Linked DNA regions of Homo sapiens. The protein of the gene in region 2 purifies or fractionates together with the protein of the main gene of each other region. This does not show direct contact. Each region holds a gene or a part of one and is shown on either strand. Other genes may lie near its edges.

The links. Proteins that work in one complex are often made in the same cells at the same time.
Region 1: the proteins of FNTB (region 2) and PITHD1 purify together in Homo sapiens (affinity purification with mass spectrometry, with the first as the bait; 3 studies listed by BioGRID). This does not show direct contact.

Annotation. Positions count from the first base shown.
Region 1 is NC_000001.11:23,781,418-23,784,917, forward strand, and holds part of PITHD1 (PITH domain-containing protein 1), read left to right. Parts: intron 1-3,500. UniProt on the Homo sapiens protein: Promotes megakaryocyte differentiation by up-regulating RUNX1 expression.
Region 2 is NC_000014.9:64,993,395-64,996,894, forward strand, and holds part of FNTB (protein farnesyltransferase subunit beta), read left to right. Parts: intron 1-3,500. UniProt on the Homo sapiens protein: Essential subunit of the farnesyltransferase complex. Catalyzes the transfer of a farnesyl moiety from farnesyl diphosphate to a cysteine at the fourth position from the C-terminus of several proteins having the C-terminal sequence Cys-aliphatic-aliphatic-X.

The DNA.
Region 1 (3,500 bases), on a different chromosome or scaffold from region 2:
GCACCACTGCATTCCAGCCTGGGCAACAGAGTGAGACTCTGTCTCAAAAAAAAAAAAAAAAATTCATCTGAAAAATTGATTAAAGGACTTCCAGAGATTTAAGATATATTATAGTTGAGTATTAGAAACATGAATTTGAAAGCAAATCCATGTATTTAATCATTTTAAGGAAATAATACCTTTGATGCTTTTGGAGACTCATTTACTTGGAAGTTGATGGACTGACCTGAGAATATTAGGCATCCATGCTGCATTGTGATTTAGAGTGTGGGATCTGGAGTAAACTGGGTTCAAATAATGGCTGTACCACTTGTTAGCTTCATGACTTTGAGACCTTATCTTCTCTATGCCTGGATTTTCTATATCTAACATGGGAATGGTAACAGTGCATACATACCTCATAAGATTGTGGAGAGGCTTAAATGAGATAAAACATGTAAAGAGCTTAGATTAGGTCTGGAACACAGTAAGTGTCCAATTTTGGGTGAACAGATACGAATACATAGCCCTCAGTTCTAAGCACACTACATATATTATACTTTATCAAATGTAAGATGTCATTGATTGTAAAATGTACCATTATATTCAATTAATACAGAAAAAATGCTATTGAACTATGACATGTCATTGACACATCCAGAAAAATTAGATTGAGAGTATTAAATCAGGGAAGTTTGAACACAGATGAGGTGTTACATGTTACTAAAGAATTACCATTCAGCCAGGCGCAGTGGCTTACACCTATAATCCCAGCACTTTGGGAAGCCGAGGCAGGCGGATTACCTGAGGTCAGGAGTTCAAGACCAGCCTGGCCAACATGGTGAAACCCTGTCTCTACTAAAAACACAAGAATTAGCCAGTCATGGTGGCAGTCGCCTGTCATCCCAGCTATTCGGGAGGCTGAGGCAGGAGAATCACTTGAACCCGGGAGGCGGAGGTTGCAGTGAGCCAAGATTACTCCACTGCACTCCAACATGTGTGACAGTGCAAGACTCTGTCTCAAAAGAAAAAAAAAAAAGAATTACCACTGGGCTGGGCACAGTGGCTCATGCCTCAATCCCAGCACTTTGGGGAGGCCGAGGCGAAAGGATCACTTGAGCCTAGGAATTAAAGGTTATGGTGAATTAAGATCGTAAGATCATATACTGGACCCCAGCCTGGGCAACAGAGCAAGGCTTAAAAAAAAATTATTTATATAGTTTGAGATAGGGCCTTACTTTGTCACCTAGGCTGGAGTGCAGTAGTGTGATCATAGCTCACTGCAGCCTCGACCTCCTCAGTTCAAGCAATCCTCCCACCGCAGCCTCCCAAGCAGCTGGGAATACAGACGTGTGCCACCACGCCCAGCTAATTTATGTATTTTTTTGCAGAGATGGGGTTTTGTTATGTTGCCCAGGCTGGTCTTGAACTCCTGGGATCAAGCAGGCTGCCCACCTCAGCCTCCCAGTGTGCTGAGATTACAGGAGCTAGCCACTGCACCCAGCCAAAAAAAAATTTAAAAAAGTGAATTGCTGTTAATTTTGTTATCTGTTGATATTGTCAATTATTGTAAAATGGTATTAAATATATGTATTTTATTTTATTTTATTTTATTTTTGAGACAGAGTCTCACTGTGTCGCCCAGGCTGGAGTGCAGTGGCGCGATCTCGGCTCACTGCAAGCTCCGCCTCCTGGGTTCACGCCATTCTCCCATCTCAGCCTCCTGAGTAGCGGGGACTACAGGTGCCCGCCACCATGTCTGGCTAATTTTTTGTATTTTTTAGTAGAGATAGAGTTTCACTGTGTTAGCAAGGATGGTCTCGATCTCCTGACCTTGTGATCCACCCACCTCAGCCTCCCGAAGTGCTGGGATCACAGGCACATGTGTGTATATATATATGTATATCTACATATATACGCATATATATATACACATATATGTGTATATATACATATATACGCATATATATATACACATATATGTGTATATATACATATATACGCATATATACACATATATATGCGTATATATACGTGTGTGTGTGTGTGTGTGTGTGTATTTTTTGTTTTTTTAAGACGGCGTTCTGCTCTGTTGCCTAGGCTTGAGTGCAGTGGCCCAATCTTGGCTCACTGCAACCTCCGCCTCCTGGGGTCAAGCGATTCTCTTGCTTCAGCCTCCTGAGTAGCTGGGATTACAGGTACACACCACCAGGCCTGGCTAATTTTTTTTTTATTTTTAGTAGAGACAGGGTTTCGCCATGTTGACCAGGCAGCTCTCGAACTCCTGACCTCAAGTGATCCGCCTGCCTCCGCCTCCCAAAGTGCTGGGATTACAGGCGTGAGCCACCACGCCTGGCCCATACTGGAATATTTATAGGTGAAATGATGTGTCTGGGATTGCTTTAAAATATTGAGCTTAAGCAAAATCAGGCTGATAGGCAAGATCAACAAAATGTTGATCATCGAAGATGAGTGAAAAGTATGTGGAGATTCATTATGTAATCTCTGCTTTTGTGTAAGTTTGAACTTTTCCATAGTAAAGTTTTTTCAATATATGCGTTACTTAGAATCGATTCAATTTCATCTCCATACCAACCGTGTGGAATATGTACTATTACCATTCCCATTTTACAGATGAGGAAACAGAGGTTAAATCAGGTGCCCAAATTTACTCAGCTGGTAAGTGACAGAGCCAGGCTTGAATCCTAGAAAGTCTAGCTCTAGATTTTAACTACAGCGCTATACTGCTTCTCATTATGCCGCTCATAAATGTTTACTATTATTATTATTCTGTGGTGCATCATTCTTAGAAACACTTTGAAGTAAACATTTGCTTTCTTTTTTTTTTTTTTTTTTTTTTTTGAGACGGAGTCTCGCTCTGTTGCCCAGGCTGGAGTGCAGTGGCGCCATCTCGGCTCACTCCAAGTTCCGCTTCCCAGGTTCATGCCATTCTCCTGCCTCAGCCTCCCAAGTAGCTGGGACTACAGGCGCCTGCCACCACGCCCGGCTAATTTTTTGTATTTTTAGTAGAGACGGGGTTTCACCGTGTTAGCCAGGATGGTCTCCATCTCCTGACCTCATGATCTGCCCGCCTCGGCCTCCCAAAGTGCTGGGATTACAGGTGTGAGCCACTGCGCCCGGCGGCTTTCTTAAATTACATGCATTTTGCCCCAGCTAATATCGAGGCCTCTTCTGTGTGGGTGTGTCAATAAAACACCCTGGAATTGGTGGGGACATGTGGCTTAGTCTTTGGGAATTTGTGGGTTATAGAGACAGCTGCTTTTTAGATTACTCTTTGAAAAACATTTTCTTCTCTAGCAGTTTACTTTTTATTTATTCTGAGACAGAGTCTCTCTGTCACCCAGGCTGGAGTACAGTGGCGTGATCTTGGCTCATTGCACCCTCTCTAGCGGTTTGGATGTGAGATTGCAGTCTTTTGTGATCTTTCAAAATGGAAATCCTCATGTTATAAATGTTTTAAGAACTGTAAGGTGACTGAGTGTATGGCGTGGTTTTTGGAC
Region 2 (3,500 bases):
CCATTAGCCAAAGCAGCCTTAACTGAGGTTGTTTTAGGGTATTGTGTCATCCCCAGCTGGTACTTTGTATTCAAAATAAGGAAATTGCAAAACTTCCTACAGCAAGAGGTACTTTGTAAGTATTTGAATATAAAGTGACTTGTATTTTCTGAGAGAGAATTTTTTTTGAAAAGTCTTGCCTTATATTTCATATATTAAATGACTCTTCTACTGCAGCTTCAATGACATGAATCTTAGGCAGCAAATCTACTTTCTGAAACATTCTGTCTCTGGGAGAGGAGGGAGATATAGGAAGCAGAGAAGTGATAGTGCCTGGTATGAAAGTTGGTGCCTCATGAGATTGGCTTTAGATAGAAGCTGTGAAAGAGAAAGTGCCAAATGCATTAGTTGTTGTTTACCACTTACTGAATGGAAACTATTCTCTGCTTTTATTGATTGGATTTCTTTTTTTTTTTCTTTTTTTATTTTTATTTTTTTTGAGACAGAGTTTCGCTCTTGTCGCCCAGGCTGGAGTGCAGTGGTGCGATCTCCACTCACCGTAACCTCCGCCTCCTGGGTTCAAGCGATTCTCCTGCCTCAGGCTCCCAAGTACCTGGGATTACAGGCATGTGCTACCACACCCGGCTAATTTTTGTATTTTAGTAGAGGTGGGGTTTTACCATGTTGACCAGGCTGGTCTCAAACTCCTGACCTCAAATGATCCACCCGCTTCCACCTCCCAAAGTGCTGGGATTACAGGCGTGAGGTACCATGCCTGGCCTAGTGATTGGATTTCTATTGATTAAATGAAAAACTCCATGAAATACCTTTTAAACAGAGCTGTCCAGAATGCAGGCATTTGGTTAGCTCTTCATTTATTTATTGCCATGGCACCTAAGTGTTGGGGACCCTAGTACAGTTACTTGATCCCTGGCCCCTAGAGTCTAACACAATCTCTCCATTACTGAACAATACAAACTAATATACATATAGTTATGTATCACTTAACAGTAGAAATACATTGTCAGTAGGAAATTTCCTTGTCATGTGAACATCATAGAGTGTACTTAACACAAATGTAGATGGCATAGCCTACTACACACCTAGGCTATATGGTATAGCTTGTTGCTCCTAGGCTACAGGCTACAAACCTACACAGTATGTTACTGTACTAAATACTGCAGGCAATTGGAACACAATGGTAAATATTTTTGTATCTAAACATATGTAAATATAGAAAAGGTAAAGTAAAAATATGTTATAAAAGATAAAAAATGATAGACCTATCTAGGGAACTTAGCATGAATGGAGCTTGTGGGCCTGGAAGTTGCTCTGGGTGAGTGAGTGAATGAGTGGTGAATGAATGTGAAGCCCTAGGATATGAGTGTACACTACTGTAGACTTTATAAACACTGTACACTTGTTACTGAGCAGACATTATGAAAAATAAAAATAAACACGGTATGCTTAAGCTACACTAAATTTATTCATACGCTTTTTTCTTTCAATAATAAATTAAACCTAGCTTACTGTAAATTATTTACTTCATGAACTTAAAAAATTTTTTTACAGCTTTTTGACCCTTTTGTAATAACAGTTTAAAACACAAGCACATTGTACTGCTGTACAAAAATATTTTCTGTATATTTTTATTCTGTAAGCTGTTTTCTACTTTAAATTTTTTAACTTTCTTTTTACCTTTTAAACTTCTTTGTTAAAAACCAAGACACAAACGCACACATTAGCCTGGACCTAGACAGGGTCAGGATCATCAGTGTCACTGCCTTCCATCTCCACATTTCATCCCACTGGAAGGCCTTCGGGGACAGTGATAGGCATGGAGCTGTCATCTCCTAGGATAACAGTGCGTTCTTCAGGAATTCCTCCTGAAGGACCTGCCTCAAGCTGTTTTATAGTTAATTTTTTAAATAAGTAGAGTTACACTCTAAAATAATAATATATAGTATAGTAAACATGTGAATTAGTAATGTAGTTGTTTATTATCATTATCAAGTGTTATGTACTGTACATAATTGTATGTGTTATACTTTTATAACACTGACAGTGCAGTAGGTTTATTTACACCAGCATCACCACAGGCATGTGAGTAATGCTTTGTGCTACAACATCATGAAAGCTGTGTTACTAGGCTGTAGGGATTTTTCAGCTCCATCATAGTCTTAACGGGACTGCCGTGGAATATGGGGTACGTTCTTGACCAAAACATCCTTATGTGGCACATTACTATATTAGTTTATATCATATATGTGTGTATAGTTTATAAGTTGATACATACTTAGTTTATATTATATATTTTAAAGATATATGTGTATATTATATATGTATATATTTTATATATATACATGTGTGCATATAAGTGTATGTATGTATATGTACGTATGTATGTATGTATGTATGTATAAAGCCTGACCAGCAAACTTGAAAACATTCTGTACACAGAAACACCTAGCCTGGGGCTGGGTGCAATGGCTCATATCTGTAATCTCTGCACTTTGGGAGGCTGAGGCACGCGAATCTCCTGAGGTTGAGACCAGCCTGGCCAACTTGGTCAAACCCTATCTCTACTAAAAATACAAAAATTAGCCAGGCCTGGTGGCAGGCACCTGTAGTCCCAGCTACTCAGGAGGCTGAGGCAGGAGAATCGCTTGAACCTGAGAGGTGGAGGTTGCAGTGAGCTGAGATCATGCTATTGCACTCCAGCCTGCATGACAAGAGCAAAACTCTGTCTCAAAAAAAAAAAAAAAAAGAAAAAAGAAAAGAAACAACCAAGCCTGGGCTGGGCACCGTGGCTCATGCCCGTGATCCCAGCACTTTGGGAGGCTGAGGCAGGAGGACTGCTTGAAGCCAGGAATTTGAGACCAGCCTGTGCAACATGGTGAGGCCCATCTCTATTATAAGAAAGAAAGAAAGACAGAGAGGGGAGAGAAAGTAAGAAAGAAAAGAAAAGAAACATCTAGCCTGTGCCCTGTCAGGAGCAGGGGTAAACTCAACTCTTGGGTTCCCTTTTTGCCATATCGTGAGTGATCAGTTGCCTCATGATTAGAGAAGGTGAGAGAGGTACTGTTAGGCTTAACATTTGTTAGGTTATACATTAAATAATGGGAGAGCTGGCCTTGGAACCTAACAGTTAGGTATAACATTGTGTTGATGGGAAAACAAATAAGGTCTAAAAACCAATGAACTTTGAGAACACAGCTTCTGCGTATGTTGTGGCCTGCCTATCTAAGTAGGTGTAGGGGATGAGGTATCACAAAACTAAGCACTTTGAAATCCTTTTCCTTTATTTTTCTAAGAAATTTATGGTTAACAAAAGTATAATAATGTAATTAAGAGCCATTTTTCTATAACTGAGAATTAACATTTGCTAACATCTTTTTTTTTTTTTTTTTTTTTGCTTCTGGTTATTTGTTTAAAGGAAAAGCAATTAGAAATATAGCCAAAGCCTCCTTTAACCCTATCCCCAGTTCAGTGTGCCTGCCACCCTTCCCAGAAGCAGCCCT